Linked DNA regions of Homo sapiens: region 2 is linked to region 1. The links come from fine-mapping of genetic effects on plasma protein levels. A gene starts in region 1. The other region holds a variant in brackets. All regions are shown on one strand. Distances are from middle to middle.

What was found. PIP is the posterior inclusion probability: the model's chance that the variant is causal. Protein levels are from antibody-based Olink assays in UK Biobank. Linkage for the fine-mapping came from a reference panel and not from the study's own genotypes, which makes the PIPs less certain.
Region 2: its variant is fine-mapped to the plasma level of the VCAN protein (UK Biobank, PIP 0.97). The variant lies in the coding sequence of VCAN. If it changes the protein, the assay may bind it differently, which can mimic a change of level.

Annotation. Positions count from the first base shown.
Region 1 is chr5:83,467,143-83,475,142 of GRCh38, reverse strand. It overlaps VCAN (versican), which reads right to left and starts at 3,399. Exons shown (of 15, transcript NM_004385.5): 1 at 3,120-3,399. RefSeq lists silencers at 326-545, 576-665 and an enhancer at 2,098-2,970.
Region 2 is chr5:83,537,205-83,540,543 of GRCh38, reverse strand. VCAN (versican) reads right to left here. Exons shown (of 15, transcript NM_004385.5): 8 at 1-3,339. All of the region lies in intron 1 of VCAN-AS1 (VCAN antisense RNA 1), which reads left to right. Among named protein-coding and RNA genes, the nearest start is that of VCAN-AS1, 23 kb to the left of the region's middle. The variant T/C (reference allele first, on the strand shown) is at 2,994.

The sequences.
Region 1 (8,000 bases):
TTGCCCCCATGAAATTCTATTAGTCTTGTCGAATGGCAGTATTTGCCATTCCAGGCGAACTCTTTATGACAGTCTGGAACGAAATTAATCTGTTAATTGACTAAGAATGGGCTTTAGAGTGACCTGAATGTATTTAAAAAGTCAACAAATGGAATACGGTATAAAGTCTCATTTTTCTGACAAAAAGTTTGCTTGGAGTAAATTTTAACCTCTCCCCTGCCTCAAAACAAAAGCACGATGCCCCTCCTACCACTCCCAAGAAGCAAGCAAAAATAAAATAAAATAAAATAAAACTTAAATAGCCTTTTAATAAGAGTGTTCAGCGCTGTCTGGATGGAACTCGGGTCAGCTCCAGAAGCAGCCGGCCCCGAATCCTGGGGGCGAGGCCACTCGGCTCTCTCGGTTAAGCTGGGCCCTGCCTTCCCCGCCCCGCCCCCATTGGCCTCGGTGGGTGGGGGCCTCGGCTGCGCCGGCCGCCTGTGCGGCTGTACTGCAGTCTCTGAGCCCAGGAAGTCACACCCGTCTCGGCTGGGAGCCGAAGCGCCAACCCACGTGGCGGCTGGCTAACCCAGCCGCTGCGGGGAGCGCCCGTTGCGGGTCCTCCCTTGGCGCGAGGTGAGCGAGTGGGGGCGGGCCCCAGACCCAGCCCCTTTGGGCGGGGCTGGACCACCTCCGCTTGTCTAGTTCTTTCCCACCCTTCCATCCCGGCACGCCTCTGCAGTCACATTTGTTGCCGCTGGGAAAGGGAAAAGAGTATCCTAAAACGAGTCTCGAAATTCAGACCCAAACCCCGAAACGAACCCTTCCGGTCCGTTCCTGGCTGTTTGAATGCCATCTGCCCCATCTCCGTTCCTTTCTCCTTTTCCTCCCCTCCACGGTCCTCTTTCCTTCCACTTCCCTTCCTTCCCTTTCTTTTTTCCTCCCACTGCCCGCCTTCTCTCCACTTTCCCGTCCGACGCCCGCCCTGAAGTTGAGGAAGTTTAAGTTTTGGATTAGGAGCCCTTCTTTTGCAATATCCTGGGGCGGGGCCCTAGCGTTGGGTTCAAGTGGTCATGGGTTTTGAGAGCACGGTATGTGTATTATCTTTCTTAAAGACGCCCAGGGTGGCGCGTCTAGACCTCCGAAACCTGGCTCCACCCTGGCCATGTGCGTTCGTCCACTAAGCGGCGAACTGGACCCAGGGCGCCGCGTGCGTTCCAGCCGACTCGCGAGAAGGCATCTCTGCACTTTGCACAGACCAAGACCTTTTTTCAGGGTCCTCCAAACTCCTAGATGTACGCCGCAGATTGTGGAGTGCAAAATGAATGACTTAAGGGAAAACTAGGGCCTTCCATCCTTGAACACAAGGTTGTGAAAGATGCTCGCTTGGTCTGGGGGGCTTGTTTTTCTCCGCCTGTGCGGGACTTCTCCATCAGGGGGCGCCCACACCCGCCGCAAAACTCCCAATTCCTAGACATCTAGGTTCTGCAAGTCTTGTGAGCTGAACTGGGGGCAGATCCGAAGGAGCGCACCGCCTCCCTCGCTCCTCCCTCCCTGCTGCCTTGGAGCACGGGAAAGGCAGGGATTTCACACTAGCCATTCATTTGTCAGCTGTGGGGGAGGGGACGCAGAAGCTAGAGAGAGAGAACAGAGGCTGGGAGAGGGGAAGGGAGGCAGAGAAGATGGAGACAGAGGGAGACACAAAGATGAGGAACGCGACCCAGAGAGACTCTGCCGCGGGTGTGCGCGCGGCAGGACAACTCTCCAGGCGCCGTGTAGATTTCTCCCCCTTCCCGCAGCATCTCCCAGGGACATGCAGGACTTGCCGAGACGCAGTTGGATTGGAGAGCAAATAGTTTAGGCTATGACACTATTTTTCTACCCCGCTCTCCTCTGCCTAACACCCAGACCGCTCCACGCCCAGTGACACAGACCGCGGGCCAGAACAACCCGGATGCCCTAGGTCTGCACGCACCAGGGATGTCGCCCTACAGCGCCCACGCCTCTGCAGGACGGTGGGGCGCTCCAGCCGAGGACGTCCCCCGGGGCTCCCGGCACACGCGCGCGCCGCTGCCGCTAGACCTGCCAGTAAAGTTGCTCAACTAGAGCGGAGAACTAGGAGAGGGTGGGGAATATGTAAGGAAACGGAGGACTCCTGTAGTCTGGGCGAGAGGACTGACCCAGAGGCCCCTGATTCGGGTCCCCGAGCCACCTTTGTCTGCAGTGCGCTCTGGGTGCCGGTTTGCTTGTTGAGATGGGAGCGACAGACCCTATTTCACTCTTCAGGGTGAGAAAAATTGTTGCACATCCCTGCCGATTCAGAACAGGCTTTTCCCGCCCAGGGGCCTCCCAGACCTCCGCGGGGCTCCAACAACCCCACCCCCCATCCTCTGCTCCTTCCCTGCTGGCCCCTTCGCACCGCGTGCAGGACAAAAGAACCCAGGGGCGCCGGGAGAGAACCGTGACAGTCCCCAAGTCGTCAAAGAGACACGGCGGGGATCCTGCACCTCCCCCGGCCGGACCTCCTCCCAGACTGCCTGCGGTCTGAAGGGGTCAGGTCCGCGCAAGGTCCCAGGCTGCTTGGGCGCCGGGTCGCACTGTCAGGAGCTGCCCGGGAGTGGCTTTCCAGGAACACCAGGCACTGACCACACACCAGGGGCTGGGAAACCAGGTGGCCTGCACCAAGGCGGCTTCGGGGACTTGTCTGTGGCAAGTCTTGGTAGTCCCCATTCAAACTTTTGCCTCGAGCGTGTTAAGAACAACAACAACAAAAAAATCAAAGTGCCAAAGGTCCCTCTCTTCTCTCCAGCTCAAGAACCCACCACTTTTCTATGATTTCTTTACAATTTATTCCCTCCCTTCCCCCAATTCCGTTAGTCATTTTACCCCCCACCCCACCCTGGGTTTCTTTTGTCTGAATCTTTTTCAACACCAAGGTCCCTCTGTATGCCTCTCCCCAAAAGCCCTTATGAAAGTTACCTGCATTTTTTAAGTGCCTACATTTTCTTAACTTCGCCTTACAGCTCTTTGCCTTAATTAAAGCCTTCTACCAATTGCTTCTTTTTTCTAAGCTCGCGGGTTTTTTTCTATAAGTTTTTTGTTTTTGTTTTTTAAGGGGGGAACAAAAGAAACGTGATTACCTTGGAAGGCGGCTTATTGCAGTTTGGGGGGAAAATTCACTGCAGCGCTGCGCGACTGGGTTCGGCGTTGCCCAGGCGGGTCACATAGGAAGCGTGGTGGCCCGGGGAAGGATGCGGAGGGTGCGGGACGGTGCTGGAAGATGCGGGAGGATGCGGGGCTGGCCGAAGATCTTGGTCCCAGCTCCTGTCCACAACACCTAATGTTCTCGGCTGTTGCGTCCGCACGCCTGGAGTTCTTCCCCAGAAAGGCTCGGGGCAGCTCGCCTGCAAGTTCAAATGCGGGTTGTGACACCCATCATCATTATATCACTGTACCGTCAGAGCCGAGGAGGAGACTCAGCGAGAAGAAGGAGGAGGGAGAGGAGGAGGGTTCATTCACAGGCTCCAAAAGCGCTCCGCAGCTTCAGCCACTCCTAAGAGTCCAGGCTTGGAAAGCAGGCGGAGGGGCGGAAAGGCAGCTCCCCGCGCCTGCGGTAGGGACCGCCTGCCTCCCTCCCCAGGCACTCCCACCTCTTGGCGTTTCTTCCTGACAAGAAGTACCAATCGGCTTGGGGACAGCAGCGCTCCCCATTCAGGGACTCACTCAGTAACATCGCTCTGCTCGCGGAAACCACTGCCCTCCCACTCCTTCCCCACCCCCATTTCCCCGCCCCCCGTGCAGCTAGTTCTGGGTTAGGGGAAAGGAGCCCCCAGGCTCTTAGGGGGCAGGCCAGCAATAGACAATTGAGTACGATCACTTCTTCTCGGGAGCACACAAAACTGTAAAATCAGCAAAGAACTTGGTTACAGCGTGTTTACGCGCCCACAGAGCTTGCCTGTCCCATCAAAGGGAAGTGTCAGGCTCAAGGCTCCTGCCAACCTGAAAGAGACACTGAGAAAACGAGATCCTTCGGGGACCTAGAGGGAAAGTGTAAGAATTCCCCACTGCACTCCCAGGGAACTGCCCAATGGGGAGCCCGGCTTCAAAAGACCCTGGTAATAAAAGGCTGGACAGGAAATTCCCCCAGGCAAATCCCTTGTCGGATTCAAAGAGAATACTTTTCCTCTGCCACAAATCTCTCCCCACATAAGTCTAGATTCTGCTTTCTTCGTTCTTCCTTTCCTTCAGTCTTTCCAAGTATCTCTGAGTAGAATATTTGATAATTTTCCTGAGTAACAGGGACTTCTTGGAAGTATCAATCACCTTTCATGCTTTCCGGAAATAAGACCATAATCTTTCATGCGTATATGCGATTTTTTTTCTTCAGTCAGGCCCACCCCACTGTGTAAACAGCATCAACACATGGAAGAGTCCCCTGCATTGTGTTACAAAAGATTTCCAATAGGACCTTACAGAGAAAAGGGTCAAACAGTTGACACAAAGGATTTCTGTCCCCTTAGAAAAGAGGGACTTTGGATTTTCCTTTTCTTTGAAGTCAAGTATGAGTTTATACAATAGGAACAAAATAAATCCAAGGTGCACATCAGTATAACACTAGGGATACTAGAATGGATGGCAAACTTTTCCTTCTACACAAATATGAAAGTATCCTCACAACTCTTCTCTCTGAAGCCTCTACTTAGAAAATTATATTAAACATAGGACCTCAAAACAGTAGTGATTAAAGATGAAAGCCAATTTTTCCTCTCAACTTCTTTGATTAGTTTGGTTTAAACTTATGCTTTAAAACTTTTAGTAACTTAGACTCCTGTACATGCGCATTTATAAGATTTCTTTTATATTTTGTAATTTGTAGGCATTCAGCATGGTCATTGATTTTAAGTGATAAACAGGTAGAAGACTTGTCAGGATAATTTCAGTTCTCACCATGTGCATCTTTCATTTCTTTTGTTATTTATCAGCCCTCTGCAGTAATATAACTGTCAGTTACATCATTTGGAAATCAATGTGTTTTTGCAGTGAATTATTTATTCTTAGTAAATTTATTGTACTACCATTCCAAACACTGAAATTTGATTTCATCAGATGTTTAGAATGATAGTCACAGAGCAGAATCAGACTTCAACCTTCATGTATAACATGTAAACAAACTAAGGTGCAGAAAGTTACTGTCCCAAAGTCACACAATTAATAGTCCAGTGGTCTTTTCAGTGCTAATCATAGCAACTTTAGATTCAAGATTGCTTGATTCAGGAATGGAGAGAAATAAAATAAAATGAATGTTCATTGAAATATATACTCCAGACATTAAGATAGACCTTTCTGTGAAACACTTCAAGATGTGGATTTGTATTCTCATTCTTAAATTTGAGTAAATCTAGTTGAGTTTCAAAGAGTTCAAGTAACCTGCCCAAGGCCATTTTGTAAGTGACAGATCTGCCAGTCTGAAAAGCTTATTATCTTTTACCCTTTTGTCCCTTTATGATACAGTTAAGTAAAACCTTTCAACAAAGGAGAACTAGATCAGAAACAAGCAACTAATAGCAGATTAATGCCCATTTTTAGGGAAATGTTAATAGTTAACATTCACTATAAATAATGCCATCTGTATATAATGGAACATGATTGAAAGTGATGGGTTAGATACTTTTTACATTCTGAGATGTTTTCATTTATGTTGCCAAATTTGATTCTCTAATCCTCCAAAATTTTTAGTTTCTTTTAATGCCAATAGACTTCACAACACTTGACCAAATACTTCTACAGGACAAAGGCACTTTCTCAGGGCTGACTTAAGGAATTAGAATATGCACAATGTTGAAAAGCTTTAAACTGCCTGTCTTTTCTCTTCTTTGACTTGTAACATTATTATTCAGAAAATTAAATACTTCTTCAGGCTATCAGATAACTAAAATGAAATTATACCCCATGGATATCTTCTTTCTATCTCTAGGGCAGACTTTCCCCTCTAGCTGTCTAAAATGGAGAATGGATAAAAAAGAAAAAGGAAAACATACCAGCTATATTTAGAATAGAGTCTACAGTTGTATTATTATTTCTATGTAACTGTTTTTAATGACTTTCCTTCATCAAGAGAAAGAAAATGAGAGAGCATTTATTTCTGATTCTCCAATGCCTGACAAAACTATCAGAAGTTTTTGAATGGGAAAATATATATTTTTCAGGTTTTATAACTAAAATTGTATTTATTTGTCCATTACACTCAAGTATGAATCAAACAGTAATTAAAATATTATTCTGTGAGTCCCCCTTTAAATCACATCCTTGTACTGGGGATATTCTTTGTGAAAACTCCAAGATCCCAGGTATAAATAAAGCAAGATCTTCATTCACAATGCTTGTGTCTAAAAGAAACCATAAGCCAGAAGCTATGTGCCTTGCTTCCTTGCTTTGATCTTGTCTTTGGGAATTTGGCTGAGCTCAGGGGCAGCAAGCCAATGACTTGGAGAGGAAAGGTGTAGATGGCAGATGTGTCTCCAGGGAATTTTATTATCTTCATCTAAACCTCCTTCTGAGGTTCTTTAGGATTACATTTCAGACTTCTCCTTTTTTATTGATCAGGTGAAGTGTTCTTAGACATGGCATCATCTATTGCTGCTCTAGGGATGACAAGATTCCAGTCCCATTCAAATTCAGAAAGAGCTTAGTTTCAACTCCTTGATCTGACTGGTCCTAGGCACAACTAAGCAAATTATCCTCACTGGATGATACAGTAATGCTACAGATTAAAAATGTACTTTTAACTTTCAAAGACCCTGGAAAAAGGAAGCCTATCCTCTAAGATTGTGTCATAATTTTTTTTTTAAATAAAACACTGCAAATTAGGGACAGACATTTCATCCAGCACTTTGAATTCTCTTTGGCTTTCTAGGAAAGGCAGAAATACAAGGTCTTTATTGCCTTCTTTTTATTCTTAAAAAAGAAATCTTGCAAAAGGCAAAGTGATGGTGGCAATCTCATTGTGCTTTAACCCGAAGTATATAAATTGCTCTGATAAATTAAACACAGACAAATTTCCTTAGAAAGCCATAAAACATTAGATTTTTCCCAGACATCAGATATTGAGTTTTTGCTCTCCAACCCCCAAATCAAAATGTTACAGTAAAATATTTGTTTTAATAAATTTTTTTTTCTCCTGTGCTGTAAATGTCCTGTTCATGGTTGAGCAGATTTCTCTAGAACTTAACTGAAAGACCATCTACATCACGACAGAACTATGCAAGCCAAAGCCAAGTTCCAACATGGAGTGATGGGAGAGGCCGGGCTGCCGAGAGGAGATGACTTCATTAGTGAGAAGAGAGGCTCTCTGAGCCGGTCCTCAAGGCAGCCAAATGGCTCAGCACATCTGCACTCACCCTGGGAGGCTGCCTGGAGCAGAGCATCAAAAACGCTATCTTTTTTATAAAGAAAAAGATGAAGGCATAAAGAACACAGTCCAACTAAATTGAATCAAAGATTGTATCACTCTTACTCCCTCCTTAGTCACTTTCTCAAAGTCTTTTTCTTCTCTCCCCACAGTCTGAAAAATATAGGTCATTTTTATAAAGCATTTGTCTGACTGAAGCAAGACAAACTGAAGAGTCTGGTTTCTGAACACAAGGAAGCGGTAGAGATCTTAGAATCAATGAGGCAGGGCGGAATACAATGCAGAAGGTTTCTTAAGAGGCAAAACTTTTGCAGTTGCTGTTTATTTTCAGTGACTACCCGTTTCCATTTATTTAATTAGACTACAGTGGGACCGAGACAAGGAGCATAATGAAAGCTGCTGCACTGATGGTGCAAAAAGACACATGGCATCATTAATGTCTCTGTGGTGAGCAAAGGTAGAACGCAAGACAGAAAACAAGGAAACCTCTGTGTTGTAAGAAAAGTGTTCAGCATGGGTATCAACCGGCATGTAGAAGCAGCAAGCATACATTCCATTTTTATTCTATTGACAAAAAGAATTGCAGGACTAATGCTTGCTCCTATTAAAATAT
Region 2 (3,339 bases), 68 kb before region 1:
TCTCATATGACACTGTATTTGACAGTGTGCTAGTTGGATCAGGGGAGCTTTTGTTCTGCTCTGAATGAAGAGGCAGCATCACTGAAACTGTTGGGAATCCATCAGCAGTAACAGCTTTAGCGCTTGGCACCTCAGGATGTTTTTCCAGGGACCCATCAGAAACAAATGTGGTGCTGCTTTCTTGTCTGGTTGCCTGAGTAGTTGCAGAAGTGTGAAATGAATCAACAATATCCACTTCTCCAGATCCTTCTCCAGAAGGTTCATAATACAAGTCAGATGGTTTTGGTGCTGATGTAACAAATTCTTTGGCCATTTCAAAACCATAAGCTCTAGCCAGAAAATCAGTAGATGAGGTTGTTGTTTCGTTAATTTCTGCTGTTGAAGAATTCTTGTTAGAGTCTTGTTCAGTTATGGTTTGTGGTCTACTAGTCTGGATTTCTTCTGCCCACCTGACAGTCTGATTTTGAGGATGTCCGATGTCCGTGGAGAAAGGGAGAGGTGCCACCGTGGGTCCTTCTGCTCCAGTGTCACTTAAAATTTCTATTAATGTTGTGCTGGTTACTGACCCACTACCTTCAAAGATGTCTGTTTGAGATACGAGTGGTCCAACTTCTTTTGCCACATTTTCCATTCTGTTAAAGTCTTCAATTTTGTCACTTGAGGTACTTTCCACTTGAGAAGTGTGGGGATATAATGTGTTATTGATTTGTTCCACTTCAGTAAAATTCACTGACTCTGTTGGTAGAGTAGGTAAAACTTCTTCTCCTGATCCCAGTCCAGAGAATAAGAGCTCAGTATCTGACTCTTGAATTGTTGGTCTCATGCCTTTCGGAAAATGTTTTGTACTTTCTTCCTTTTTGATTGGTGAATCTGTGACTACATGTTCAGCTGGTATAGATTCAGTTACTAATGCAGTAGCTAAGAAAAAATGTGACTTTTCAGTAGCTTCAGGGAGAGTTGTGTAAGATTCCAAGCCATTTGCATCTGGATCTGGAGTAGACATGTTAACTAAAGAAGTGTCTTCCTCCTTCATTTCTTTATCATCACTGTAAGTTTTCTTTGTTGTTAGTACAGAATAATCTGTGGTTTTGAGTTCAGTTTCAGTAAATGTCTGTGAATCAAAGATTGTTTGTTCTGTTGCAGGAGAGTTTTGAGGGGATTCAAATGACTTTTCTTCTTGAATTTGTTCCTCTGATGTTGTTTCACTTTCAATTTCTTGTCTTACAGGGTTGACTTCTTGCCTAGACCATAATTTGGCTGGCTCTATAGTTTGGGGAAAGTTTGTTGAAACTGTGCCACTGACCTTTACTTCCTCCTTCTCTACTGGAGCTTTCGTACCTTCCACTTCTGCTGTTGGTAAAATGGTGGATCTTCTATCAATTTCATTGACAGTACCCACTTCTCCCAATCCTTCGTCGATAATGGAGGAAGCTGTACCAGAAAACTTTTGCACAGCACTGGGAAGCACTGGAACAACAGAGCTGCTGACTGTGACCAGTTGCTCACCTGAGCCCTCAGCTGAGGATGTAAACTCTTCCCAGGGGAAGGCTGAAGTGCTGACCATGGTGCTACTGGGTCCTTCTGAGTCAGATATGTGACTGATGTGAACTGAAGTAGGTACTGTAGATGGTGAAGTCTGGGTGTCCCTAAATGCTGCATCTCCAGAGCCTTCCATCATTACCGTTTCTTCTTTTGCTATGGGATGAGACACTGTTGAGTATTCTCTAAAGTCACCACTGAAATCTTCCTCCAAAGGAAAACCTGTGGAAAAGCCCCTTATTTCTGCCCCATAATTTGGTTCTCCTAATCGCTCTGAAATCACTATTTCCCTGGATGTTTGGGTTATATTTTCAGCAACTACTCTGTCCATTACTGTACTCAAAACCAGTCCTGTTGGCTCAGTGGAGAATGTAGTTTCCACATGCGGAGACAAAGTGCCAGCTACTTCCTTTTCGGCTTGAATTGCATACTCTACGTTTAATGAAAATGAAGAAACAGTGGTGGTTTCTGGGTCGGCAGCAGCTTCTCCAGAGCCCTGCTCCATAAAGACAGAGGCAGGACTACGTGGGAGAGTGGTCAGCCCTTCCTGAACCCCAGGTTGATGGATACTGCTGTGCTCAGTGGTCTGTGCCCCCAAATTTTCTAATGTATTTGTTTCTGTAAAGACAGGAGTAGAATCTGTCATTTCCCTTTCAGACTGTGTTGGTGTTGTCAAGGACATAAAACTTTTCCTGGTACCTGAATCACTAGATGTAGCTACATTTGGACTTTCTAATTCAAAGGGTAAAATTAATTGATCCGATCTCTGTGTAGATGAATATACCTCAAATGTAGAAGCCGTACCTGTAGTTCCCTCCTCCTCCTTCCTTTTCTTTTCCTCAACAGTGGTACTGGAAATCCACTCAGAAGTGTCTGTTTCACTTACAAACTTGGTAGGCACCACTTTTGCAGAAGGTTGTTCAGAAACTGGATAAATGGTGGTTGCAGGAACCTCAAAAAAGCTTTCTGTGATTATCCTGCTAGTGTCTAAAGTAATGAGTGTATCAGTAGTATTTCTCTGTGATAAATCAGTTACCATGGTGAACATTGTATCTTCATCTTCTTCTGCTTCTCCAGAGCCTTCTGTAATTGGAATCGAAGAACTCCCTGAGAGCTCTACAACTTGTCTAGGAGTTGCTTCTACCCAGCTTTCTTTGGTAGACAACAGGTCATCTGGCCAAGGATTTCCTATTAGGGTAACTGCTTCTTCCTCTGAAACATATGCTGATGCAGAACTTGGAACTATAGTGGGAGTGTATGTGACAGAAGTACTTTTTTCTACCTCTTCACCAAATGTTACTTCTGTAGCCCTTGCAAAGGCTATTTTCTGAGATTCTTGGTCAATGGCAATCTCTCCTGAAGACTCTTCAGGAAACAGAGATACAGGTTCAGTATGTTCATGTGCCTGATGACCAACTTCAGTATCTCTCTCTGTGACTGATTCTGCCCCTTTT[T/C]TGGCTGTTCCACTTTCAAATTCCTCATGGAATGGGACTGTGGGGAAAACATCAGGCTCACCACCTGAAAAATGTTCTGATGTTTCAGGGTAAGTCTCAGGCTTCCATGTAACTTCAAGAGACTCAGTTGTTTCTGTAGATTCATTAGGTTGCACAGCAGTAGACAATTCCGTTTTGGCTATTACAAATGGATGAGTATCACTTTCAGAGCTGTCCGAGAAATTCTGAGAAGGTGCAACACTTTCAAACTGGCCACGCCTAGCTTCTGCAGCTTCTGGGTCCTTGGGCACAGTGGTAACGAGATGCTTCCCATTTATGTACTGCACAGATGGGGTGGTTGTCACAT